Linked DNA regions of Homo sapiens. The protein of the gene in region 1 purifies or fractionates together with the protein of each later gene. This does not show direct contact. Each region holds a gene or a part of one and is shown in the gene's direction. Other genes may lie near its edges.

Evidence for each region.
Region 2: the proteins of FSCN2 (region 1) and ZNF507 purify together in Homo sapiens (affinity purification with mass spectrometry; 2 studies listed by BioGRID and IntAct, with this or other methods). This does not show direct contact.

Annotation. Positions count from the first base shown.
Region 1 is NC_000017.11:81,523,306-81,531,386, forward strand, and holds the start of FSCN2 (fascin-2), read left to right. Parts: upstream 1-5,071; 5' UTR 5,072-5,226; coding exon 5,227-6,052; intron 6,053-8,081. UniProt on the Homo sapiens protein: Acts as an actin bundling protein. May play a pivotal role in photoreceptor cell-specific events, such as disk morphogenesis.
Region 2 is NC_000019.10:32,383,472-32,388,249, forward strand, and holds the end of ZNF507 (zinc finger protein 507), read left to right. Parts: 3' UTR 1-4,196; downstream 4,197-4,778. UniProt on the Homo sapiens protein: May be involved in transcriptional regulation.

The DNA of each region.
Region 1 (8,081 bases):
CCCCCTGCCTTGCCGATGGAGCCTGTCACCCTAAACCTGGCCTCAGTAAACCAACCCAGGCCAGAGAAAGAGAAGTGCGGCCCCCTCGCCCGTGTAAGTGGAACTGCAGCGGAGCCGATAGCTCAGCCATGAAAAAATCATGAGGTCGCCAGGCTGCAGGTCTGTGCTCAGGAATAACACCCGGGGCTGGGCCCCTGGGAGTAGGTGCTGGGCCAGGAGTGAGGACATCAAGGCCCGGTGTGCCCAGCAGGGTGGCCCTCACCTGGCTGCAGGGCCAAGGGGACAACAGAGCCTAGGCAGGGGCTTGGCACGGGGACAAGGGGGAGGGTGGAGTACCTGGGAATCACTGGAGACAGGGATGCCAACAGGAGTGGCAGCGGTCAGGGCCTGGCACTGAGGTGGGGGCTCCTCCGATGCCTGCAGGGAGGGCTGCAGGCACTGCTGGCCTGTGAAAGGCGTGGTCCTCAGCCGCGGGGTGGCCCCAGGGCTCCATTTCCCAGTTTTCAGGGCTCCAGTCCAGCAGGGCGAGGAGCCACCTCTCCCCCAGCTGCACACACGCAGGCCTGTGCCAGCTCACACCACCAGCATCAGCGTTGCAGGGCATCCAGCCTGGAGCACGTGCCGGTCACCATGGCAGCAGACAGCGTGCCAGCAGGAGCCCAGGCTGGGCTCAAGCATCCAGGATCAGTGGTCTAGGCATGGGGGGCTTGGGGTCCTTCCCCTTGGAGCACCAGACGGGCCAACTCGGGGAGGGGAAGGGGGACCCTGGAGCACCAGGACAGCCCGTCCACCAGCACCTCAGAAAGGGAACGATTTCCTAAGGGCTCTCGGGAAACCTGAGGGTGGACACCAGGTGCCGGTGGGGGCGCATGGCTTCCTGGTCCTGCCCAGCTGGCCCCGCACTGAGAGGGATGGAGGCCGAGGCTCAGGCCTCGGGAGGCTGCCAGGGGATTCTGATGGCTGAGGCATTCCTTGCCCTCTGGGCTCAGGTGAGGCCAGGAAGTCTGTCACAGCTGGCTGCTCCCTGGACCAGGGGGCTGGGGGTACTGCTACCCCAAACAGCCTCTCACTGCCCACCGGGACAAGGCACCCCCTCCCAGGTGCAGACCTCAGCTTGGGCCTCAGGCACACACTGGGCAGGGGCTTCCACCAGCCTCAGAGGTGGGCGAGGGTGGGGCGTGGAGCCCTCAGTGTGGCAGCGCCTTTGAATGTCGCCACAGTGCAGCCTGCACAGGTCAGGGTGGCAGGCACGTGTGTATCCCATGTGAGTGGTTGGTTGGCACCTCCGGAGGTGTGGCCACAGGGCTTGGTGAGGGTCAGTGGGAGGGGTGCTTCCTGTTGCCTGAGAACACTGCAGGGGGCTAGAGTGCCCCAGCCCACCATATGCTCTTGTGAGTTGTGTATGTCTGGAGTATGAGTGGGACCCTGGAAATAGCCTCCCTTGGGCAGTGTACAACCTGGGCTCCCTGCTGGGCAGCCCTGAGTAGGCTCTCAGGCTGGGATCCAGGATGACAGTCCCAGGGTCCAGAGTTGGCCCAGCAGGCGACTCTTCTGGCAACCTTTGCCCACCCTCATCCATGAGCACCTTCACACACACACACACACACACACACACCACACTCACACACATGCACAACGCTGCACCCATGGGCAGAGGCTCAGCCCATCATACAAGAACCCGGCCCTGTGCTGGGGTCCCAGCTGCTCAGGAGGCCAAGGTGGGAGGATCGCCGGAGCCCAGGAGTTCGGGGCTGCCACTGGCCAAGATAGCGCCACTGCAGTTCAGCCTGGGTGACAGAGCAAAACCCTGTCTCTAAGATAAATAAAAAGAACCAGACGGCCAGGCACGGTGGCTCACGCCTGTAATCCCAGCACTTTGGGAGGCCGAGGCAGGTGGATCACCTGAGGTCAGGTGTTTGAGACCATGCTGGCCAACATGGTGAAACCTCATCTCTACTAAAAATACAAAAACTAGCGGGGCGTGGTGGTGGGCGCCTGTAGTCCCAGCTACTTGGGAGGCTGAGGCAGGAGAATCGCCTGAACCTGGGAGGTGGAGGTTGCAGTGAGCTGAGATCACGCCACTGCACCCCAGCCTGGGCGACAGAGCAAGACTCTGTCTCAAAAAAAAAAAAAAAGGCTGTGCCTGGTGGTTCACGGCTGTAATCCCAGCACTTTGAGAGGCTGAGGAGGCCAGATCACAAGGTCAGGAGTTCGAGACCAGTCTGACCAACATAATGAAGCCCCGTGTCTACTAAAAAATACAAAAAAAATTAGCTGGGTATGGTGGCAGGCGCCTGTAATCCCAGCAACTCGGGAGGCCGAGGCAGGAGAATCACATGAACCTGGGAGGCAGAGGTTGCAGTGAGCCAAGATTGTGCCATTGCACTCCAGCCTGGGTGACAGTGTGAGACTCTGTCTGAAAAAAATAAAATAATTAATAATAACCAGACTCCCGACATCCAACAATCTCAGGCACTTATTAAGTACCTGCTGTGTGCCAGAAATTTTGCTGAGAATCCAGAGGAAGCGATCCTAGCAGGTGGCTGGGCAACAGCCTGGGGTCCTGAGGTGGAGGCAGGAGGGGCTGGAATCCCTGTAAACGGCCTCCCTCCAAGGAAGCCTGGCCCAGGCGCCCACCCTTCAGTCACCCTCCCCTGTTTAGCTCACACAGCTGGGTCAGTGCCAGGCAGCCCCACCCAACGTGGAGCTGTGGGGCCCTAGAACTGAGGAGCCGCCATCATTTCTGGCTCTGCCACCAAGAGGCTGCCCAGAGCCAGGCCCACTTAGTGCCGGGCGGCCAGGCTTCCCCCTGCTGAGCACCCGATGCCTAAGCGCCCTGCCAGCCCAGACAGCGCTAATGAGGCCGTCGTGCCAATCAGAGGGGCAGGCCGCCTGGGCTCCTCCTCAGCCTGGCTGGGCGTTGGGGTGTGGAGGTGAAGCCAGTGTCTGTGCCTGGGGTGGGGGGGACCATGGGCACAGCTGCCCCTCCGGCTTCCCCCACCGCTCACGGACCAACCGAGCTGTACCCTCAAAATCCAACGGGAGGCCGGGCGCAGTGGCCACGCCTATCATCCCAGCACTTTCAGAGGCCGCGGCGGGCAGATCACTTGAGGTCAGGAGTTCGAGACCAGCCTGGGCAACATGGTGAAACCCCATCTCTACTAAAAATACAAACATTAGCCGGGCACGGTAGCAAGTGCCTGTAATCCCAGCTACTTGGGAGGCTGAGGCAGGAGGACTGCTTGAGCTCGAAGGTTCCAGTGAGCCAAGATTGCGCCACTGGACTCCAGTTTGGGTGAGGAGCGAGACCCTATTTCAAGAAAAAAGTTTTTTAAAAAGAAGAGCCAATGGGAAAGTGAGGTGCAGGCAGCACCCTAGCTTGTATCCCTAAACCAGAGACAGTTCCCTGGCATCGGTGCTAGGCCTGTGTCCTCAGTCCCCTGGAAACTGTGGGAGAGTGTGTGTGGGCATCGTCTCTGGGAAGGGGGTGAAACCCCAGACTGCGTCTCCCCAGGATGGTGCCTGGCACGTGACCTGGTTTCGCACACAGTTGGTGCCTCATAAATGCGTGTGAATCATAGAGGCGGATGAGGCCAGCACACAGGGAGAGGCGAGAGCAGGCCCTGGCGTCGTGGCGTACGCTGTGCCCTGGGGGGTATTTGCATGTGGGAGTCTCTCTGCCCCCACCCTGGCCCCTGAGCGTGGGGACAGTGGGGACAGGTCTCCTCTTTTTCCTCCCCTGTGTCTGCAGGTGCCTGGCACGGTTGCTGTCCAGGGCTTAGAGGACAGAGGAAGAGCCCCTGAGTCTGTGCACACTCTGCCACCATGGCCCTGCCCACCTCTGGAGCCCACAGGTGCCCAGCCCAGGCCCCTTGCTTTTGGCTAGACTCCTGCCCTACGGGGACCCCCATGATGGCCACTCAGGAGATGGGCCCAGGAGGACAGGGGAGTGACTCCAGGCCATGACCGGAAGGGGCCTGTGGCCCCTGTTCCCAGTCCCCAGGGAGACGGGAGGGTCACACGCTGTTATGAGGAAGAGGACACCGGGCTGGCCCTGGCCCAGGGTGGCCAGCTCTGGTTTCACTACTTGGCCCCAAGCCCCTGAGGCAGGTGCAGGAGCCAGGCACGGTGAGCAGGGCCCAGTGCCCCTCAGGCTCTGGGGAAGGGGTACAGCCAGGTGGCCCAGAGCAAGGAGGTGCTGTAGACAGGTGTGACCACTTCCAGTCTCTCCCGGCCTGCTGGCCTTCATCCTCTCCCAGATTCCAAGGGCCACCGCTGGGAGCATGGGGTGGACATCGTCCCACCAGCCTCCTGGATCCACATCCGTAAAGACTCCAAAGTGAAGTGAGGCTGGCTTCACTCCAGCTCACAGCAGAGGAGGGGGCAGCCTCAGGGCCCAGCAACTTGCTCAGAGCGCACAGGAGTGCGCTGGGGCCGGGCCAGCCTGGCCCAGGGCCTCTGACTCTGCCCCCTGCCTGCAGGGCTGCACGGCCACTGTGTTCCACCCTCCAGCGTGGGTGGCAGTCCAGTGCGTCATTCTGGGGCCTGAGCAGTGTGGCCAGAGGCCGGTCTGGGGTGGAGGCGACCTGGGCTGCAGGTTGTGGCTGGGGTCCTTGCTATGCTTCTGGCAGCAGGAATCAGAGAAGCAGTAACTGGATCCAGCTGAGGGCCTGGCGGCCACCGAGGGTACGGGCGGCGATCAGGTTGCGGCCGAGCCGTGAGCGTTCCACTGGACGGCTTCTACATCCGGAAGGGCTGGGCCGGGCCGGGCCGGGAGCCCACACGGGGTTGGAGGAGGGGGGCAGGAACGAGAGAGGCCAAAAGGTGCAGGGCCGTGAAGAGGGGCGCTGGGCCCACGCTATGAGGAAAAGGGGATCAACCCTGCCCTCCAGCCCCGTAGGCCCTCAGGCCCTCGGGCTCTGGGCTCTGTGCAATCCGGGAGTGGCTGAAATCCAAGCTGAGGGTAATGAAAGGTGCTGCTCCTAAGCCGCACGTCTCTGATCCGCCCTCCCCGCCCGCCCTCTGCTGCCCGCGGGCCCTCTAAGAGCTGCCCAGGCTGCTGCCGCGGGTCAGAGGCGGGTCAGAGCAGGCAGGGGGTTCGTGACGCCGGCTGGGTCTGGGGGCTGTGGGCCAGCCGAGCCGACCCGGGCTTCTGGGGGACCGCGGGGGCCGTGAGCACTCAGAGGGCGCATCCCAGGCCCCTCCGGGGACCCGGCCAGCCTGAAGATGCCGACGAACGGCCTGCACCAGGTGCTGAAGATCCAGTTTGGCCTCGTCAACGACACTGACCGCTACCTGACAGCTGAGAGCTTCGGCTTCAAGGTCAATGCCTCGGCACCCAGCCTCAAGAGGAAGCAGACCTGGGTGCTGGAACCCGACCCAGGACAAGGCACGGCTGTGCTGCTCCGCAGCAGCCACCTGGGCCGCTACCTGTCGGCAGAAGAGGACGGGCGCGTGGCCTGTGAGGCAGAGCAGCCGGGCCGTGACTGCCGCTTCCTGGTCCTGCCGCAGCCAGATGGGCGCTGGGTGCTGCGGTCCGAGCCGCACGGCCGCTTCTTCGGAGGCACCGAGGACCAGCTGTCCTGCTTCGCCACAGCCGTTTCCCCGGCCGAGCTGTGGACCGTGCACCTGGCCATCCACCCGCAGGCCCACCTGCTGAGCGTGAGCCGGCGGCGCTACGTGCACCTGTGCCCGCGGGAGGACGAGATGGCCGCAGACGGAGACAAGCCCTGGGGCGTGGACGCCCTCCTCACCCTCATCTTCCGGAGCCGACGGTACTGCCTCAAGTCCTGTGACAGCCGCTACCTGCGCAGCGACGGCCGTCTGGTCTGGGAGCCTGAGCCCCGTGCCTGCTACACGCTGGAGTTCAAGGCGGGCAAGCTGGCCTTCAAGGACTGCGACGGCCACTACCTGGCACCCGTGGGGCCCGCAGGCACCCTCAAGGCCGGCCGAAACACGCGACCTGGCAAGGATGAGCTCTTTGATCTGGAGGAGAGTCACCCACAGGTGGTGCTGGTGGCTGCCAACCACCGCTACGTCTCTGTGCGGCAAGGTAGGGAGGGCACAGGTGGCGACCTCCTGAGGGGTGCTGGGACCCCCCTGCTTCAGGGAGGAGGCCGTGGGGGTCTCACGGGGAGTGGTATCGTGTCTGTGCGTTCACATGTCTGTTCTGGGCTGGGGGTCCATGTGGGACATGTGTGGCCACTCAGGGTGTAGGTGGGTGGGCCTCGGGCCATGCCCAGGCGACCCCCACTGAGGGGTGGTGGCTTCAGGGTCAGAGGCAAGGGTTCCTGGCCTTTCTCAGCATAGCTGGAGAATGTCTCAGCCAAGCCCTGGGCAGCTGCGGAGTCTGAGACTGGAGAGGTGTGGGCCAGGCGATGGGCAGTGCCCAGCAGGGGCAGGAGGCCCACAGCCTGGCCTGGTGCCATGAGGGGCATGTGGGCAGGAGGCTGTGGGGGGTCCATATCTCCCCTTCTTTTTCTCCACCCCATTTTCTGGACTTCATTTATTTATTTATTTTTTGAGACAGAGTCTCGCTCTGTCACCCAGGCTGGAGCGCAGTGGCGTGATCTCGGCTCACTGCAAGCGCCGCCTCACGGGTTCACGCCATTCTCCTGCCTCAGCCTCCCGAGTAGCTGGGACTACAGGCGCCCGCCACCACGCCCGGCTAATTTTTTGTATTTTTTAGAAGAGACGGGGTTTCACTGTGTTAGCCAGGATGGTCTTGATCTCCTGACCTTGTGATCTGTCCACCTCGGCCTCCCAAAGTGCTGGGATTACAGGCGTGAGCCACCGTGCCCGGCTGCATTTTCTGGACTTTAAAGGAAATTGGGGAGGAGCCCAGGGTAGGGCAGGGAGCTGGGGATCGGGCGGGGATAGCACCACCACGTGCCTGACCAGTGGAGCCTCGTGTCCTCAGGAGTGGGGGGGCTTAAGGTCAGCTCCAGTGATGGAGGACACGGTGGGCAGGCAGCTTTACCCGGGGCCTGGGCTCCTGGTGGGGAGGCACCTCCCTGCCCCAGTGGGGCGTGGCCTGGCTCTCCCCAGTTCCCAGGTCACCAGTTGCCTGTCTGTGTGACTCCCTCCACCGCCTATGGGGTGAACCCCAGCAGTTCCTCCTTCCCCACAAGCTGAGCTCTGAGGGAAAAGCCCTGGCCCGGGCAGTCACTACCCACCTGGGCTCCTGGCTCCATGCACCCCAGAGTGGCTCGGAGGTGGTCTGAAAAGGCGAGGTGGGGAGAGCCGGGTGCATGGAGCTCCTCCTCCCAACTCAGGTCCTTCCAGACCAGCATCAGCTGGGCAAGGAGAGCTCCCCTGTCTCCTGGCAGCTCCCAGGTGCCCACCAAGCCCCCACCCTGACGGATGTCCAGGCCCCCTGGGTACACTGACACTCTGGGGCCAGATGGCAGAGGCCCCACCCTGTGCATGGAGAGGGGAGCCCAGCCATGGCTATGGGGTCCTGCACCTGCAGTTGGCATCCTCGGGCCTGTCCCAGCAGTGACAGGGTCCCAGGAGTGAGAATTCAACTGTGGATGCACGGCCATGGCCCTTCCTTCCTATCACAGCCCACAGTCCAGCTGTAATGCCTGCTGGCCTGGGCCCAGGCCGGGCATGTGGCAATCCTTAGGTGGTTAAAGGGGGTAAGTGGGACAGTGGCAGTGAGAATGCTTCCTCCATGGAAGCCAAAGACACTAGACCTTTAGGCATTTGTATATGGACAGCTTGGAAAGCAGACTCAAAGTGGCAGTCATGGCCGTGGCCGTGGCATTGTGGTGTGATGTGCATGGTGGCGTGGAAGTGGAGGTGAGGACGGTGGTGACAGTGTGGTGGCAGCAGCGACAATGATGGTGATGGTGATGATGGTGGTGATGGTGATGATGGTGGTGATGGTGGTGATGGTGGTGATGGTGGTGATGGTGATAATGGTGATGGTGGTGATGATGGTGATGGTGATGATGGTGGTGATGGCGGTGGTGATGGTGATGGTGGTGATGGTGATGGTGGTGGTGGTGATGATGGTGGTGGTGGTGATGGTGGTGGTGATGATGGTGATGGTGATGATGGTGGTGGTGATGGTGGTG
Region 2 (4,778 bases), on another chromosome or scaffold:
GCTTAGTTTTCTTCTCACTTGTCAAATGCAGACTGTGAGGCCTCCAGTGAGAAATGGGAGGCAGTTCTGGGAGGGGGTTTTTTCAGTGTCACCAACAGAGTCAACAAGGAAACATAATTAGAGGGCTTTGAAATGATCTACTGAAATACCTAAATTGATAGAAATTAATCATACTCAATCTAGGACATGTTCCTTTACTCCTTAAAAAAGAAAGGAAAGATCTCTAAATTCAAAGCTAGATTGTAAATAGGCATTCAAGAAGTATTGTCTTAAATTTACGATGAATTTCTTGTGAGCAGAGGACGAAACAGGTGAATTCTCACCAGACTCAAACCAGATCTCAATTCGTAGTAATGCTAAATCGTCTTCCGTGTTCTCAGAGGTTCTTTTCAGTGTCTGTCAGAACTTGGCATACTTTCTCCATAGTACGTAGACCTTCTAATACTCTGCTAAATGAAACCACACTTGTTATCTGAAAGTGTGTGAAAGAAACAATGTATGAAAATTTACATTTGATCATCCGGCATTGGAAATAGTTTGAACTATTTCCAAAAATCCCTTAGGGGATGAGGGGTGAAATTTAAAAGCTCCTGAAAATGAGTACTGCTGTGTTGAGCTTTTCTTTCCTGGGGTATATTAATTTAGTTATATTTAGCAGAAGAGGAATATAACCAAATGTGACTAAAATATAGCAGAAATTCAGGTTGTTTGTAAAAATTTTAATAACAAATAGCATTTGGCAAGTCTATAGGATTCTTCCTATCTGGAAATTCTATTTTGTTAGAGTGCGATAGGACATATGGAAAACCAACACAAAGTGCTTTAGCATTAAAACTCACCATCAAATAGATGTAATCTTATTAATTACACATTTTGTATTTTAATTATTTCAAGGAGTGAAGAAAACAGGGTGTTTTTGTTTTTGTAGTTCTGATTACTCATTTATGCATTGTTTTGTTTAAGTAAATTCTGCCTACAAGTGAAAAGGTCGGTGCGCTCTTCTGTGCACCATCCTCACGGTGCTATTTCCGAATATCTGAATATTGATTTCTAACACCTGGATGAGGCTGTGACCGATCAACTTGGAACACTGTAAAGGTTTTCGAATGGGATACGCTGTAGGCACGTTTTAAGAAGTATTCTGTTCCTAAAGTCCAGGTATGATTGGATTAATATTTATAAAATTATTATTAGGAATTATTTAAGTGGGGCCAGGCATCTTGCAACATTTTCTGATTTTTTTTTCTTTCTTTCTAATCTCATTTTGGTGATATTTAAACAAACATAAATGATTGTAACTTTGCAGCTTTTTTATTTAGGTAGCTTTAATTTATTTATGAAAGTTAATCCATTTCTGATACGTGGTTTTTAAAAATATGAAATGGATTTATATATACTATATTCCTCAAATCCACTGTATGTGGACTTATATTCATTTTCTCCTTTTTTCGGAATTGAAACATTTTAATTTCAAATTCAAATAGAACATTTAAAATGATTTCATTATTATTACCCATACTGTTGCCACTCATATTGTAAGTCAGTTTTTTCATTGCTGGTACAATGACTCAGTATTTCTTTATAAAAATCTGTTGTTCTGAAAATCAACAACCTTAGAAGGATTTTGTCTTAGAAAATTTCCTTGGCTTTAGTTTTATATCATATTTAGAAAATAATAATGAAAAGCATCCCCAAAATTTCAATGATGTGAATTTTTAAATTACCTTTATTTCTTTAAACTAATTCCATTGATTGTTACTTAAATTTTCCACCTGGAATCATGGATTTAAAATTTCCCCACCTCATGGGGAAAAAACTAACCCAGAAGTTCAAAGCCTTTAAAGTTTCATCTGATTCTGGCCTTAGAATTGTCCTTAAAAGCTTTCTCCTGGCCGATAGGAGGAAGCATATATCAAGGAGGTTCTTTCCCTTCCCATTATCATTTTGTGGCAAGCCTTAAGTTAACAATGTGTCTACCAAGAACAATTGAGTTTTCTAAAAGTAATAATGAAGATTATGCAATTCTAACTGTAGAAGAGATAGCTATTAAAATAATCAGTAGCCTGGGCATAGTGGCTCACACCTGTAATCCCAATACTTTAGAAGGCCAAGGCTGGAGGACTGCTTGAGTCCAGAAGTTTAAGACCAGCCTGGGCAACACGGGGAGACCCTGTCTCTACAAGAAATTAAAAATTAGCCAGGCATAGTTGGCACGTGCCTGTAGCACCAGCTACTTGGGAGGTTAAGGTGGGAGGATCACTTGAGCCTGGGAGATAGAGGCTTGCAGTGAGCCGTGATGGCACCATTGCACTCCAACCGGGGTGACAGATGAGGTCCTCTGTTTACCTCCCCCCCCAAAAAAAAAATTCAGTAGGAATTCCTTCATAGAATAACATGTTATTTATTGGTATTGACTTCTTATTAGACAGAGCTCATAGTATTTGTTTTCTGCTCCGAACACTTAAAAAATACTAAGACGTGATAGTGAAAATAGCTTTGAAAAGAAACTACATATGGCAAAGGTGGGGAGGGGGGAAGATGATGCATTCTGATCATTATAAAGAATACTTTTCAGGGCTCTATCATTTTCTCCCTTTCTCTAATCATCCAGAATATGGCGGGTGTCCCAGTGTTCAACAGTATCATGCTAATATTCCATTTGATCGGTAGTCCAAGTTCTTTGGCCAGATAGTGCAATGTTGTGACACCGACCGAAGCCTTTGTTCTGGATCTTTCTTCCTATTGAAGGTGGCTGCTGGTGGCTTCATAATTTTCTGTTTTTTTTCTCACAAAGTAAATGGTGGGCATCCATGTTTACATTGCACCTTCCCGTGCTGTAATTGGCTTGACAAAGACAAGCAGGCTTCTCTGTTGAGACTTATTGTGTTTTTAGTTTTCATAGACACTTATTTAATCTTTTTAAATTGTACAGCAAGGTGCTCTAAGTAATATTCGATAAAATATATTTAATAGAAATTTGCGTTTGATATTCATGAACATGAATACATGTATTTTTTTAAGAAATAAGTATTGTGTAACACTATGGCATTGCTTCTATAGCCAAAGTATAAAAATTTCTGGAATACTGACATGTAAAGACTACAGTTAATTCTGACACTGTATCTTATTAAAATAGGATGATTTGCATTTTGTAAAATTATCCTGCACATCAAGCTGCATGCCTTAAAGCGGAAACTCTAGGACTGTGTTCATGGGAGAGCAGTTCATCTGTTCAGAACAGTGAGGCAAGGTCTGTAGTGCTTCTTTAACTACCTTTGGAAATACTGTACAATGTTAGAATAATTTATTTTGCTTTACAGGAGTTTGTCATGTATTGACTTTAATATTGTATTTTGGTAATAAATTTTTTGTTAAAAAAAACTTGGCTCCAAGTTCTATTAACCACAGGTTGTGTTCATTCTTTTCCTGGAAATGATGACTTTATTGCTTAGAAAGTTGTAAATAATTAAAAGCTTCCCAAGAGTTAAATGAAGGTTATGATGACTCTTGATAACTTGTTAATCTGTTGCTGACTAGCATTAGACTGTTACACGAAGATAAACTGAATAAGCATTTAGCTTTTTAAATCATTTTAAAAATTAAGTCTAATTTTGAAGCTTTTTTCCTTGCTACCCAGTTCAGTTTCTCTTCCAAATGTGACACGCTTATATGCTTTCAATTCTGATATAGTCAAAGTGCTAAAGACTAGTTCTGCTATTGACGAAGGAATTAGCATTCCTTAGTGAAGGCCAAAAACTACAGTGATATGTTCACACCTTGATCACTCTGTCGTCTATACAGACAGCTATTGACATATTTGTTGCATTGACGAAGCTAACATCATCTGACTGTATCGTGGGTCTGGTTATCCATTTGTGCCCTAGAATCCTGGGTCACCTCAGTTGAAAGTGACCAAGGCCAAATATTTCGTCCCATGCTTCCCAGGGACAACATAATCATATCCCCTGTCTTTGAAAAACCCAATCTGAAACTGTGTCACTAACCTCCAAATTAAAGAATCCGAGCATGGAAGCTCTAGAACGTATGGTCCAGTGTGGCAGCCACTATAATATCTAAGTGTAAAATACATAGCAGTTGCAAAGACTTAGTACAAAAAGAATGGAAATGTATTAACAGTTTTTTATATTGATTACATGTTGAAATGATATTTTGGTTTAAATAAAATATTAAAATTAGTTTTACCTGTTTCTTTAGCTACTAAACAGTTTTAAATTACATATGTGGCTTACATTATATTTCTTTTGGACAGCGCTGGTACAGAAGAGAGATTAGCAAACTAGGGCCCTCTCTTCAAAGCCAACCTGCCACCTGTTTTGGCAAATAAAGTTTTATTGGCACACAGCCATGCTTTTGTGTGTGTACATATCATATATGGCTATTTTCAAGGTACAACAGCAGCACTGAGTAATTGTGACAGAGACTCTATGGCCCACAAAACCTAATTTACCACCTATCTGATAGAAAAAGTCTTCTGACTAGACCTCTGAACTAGAACAATGGTATAATTTGTGCTCTAGAGCTACCAGGAAGAAAACGGCTTTTTACAAAGAAAGCTTTTTATAGTAGTGCTTTATAACTAAATTAGTTTCTTCCTTTGTAATTTTTATAGTCTACCTGTCTACAGATTTTAACCATATTTTATGACTTTAACCTATTCCATCGCTGATATTTAAAGCCAGTTTGAAATAACAATGCATAATTAAATAATAAACTAATTCAAAATGCAGCTATAAAAAGTCTCGCTTGCCTCCTGACAG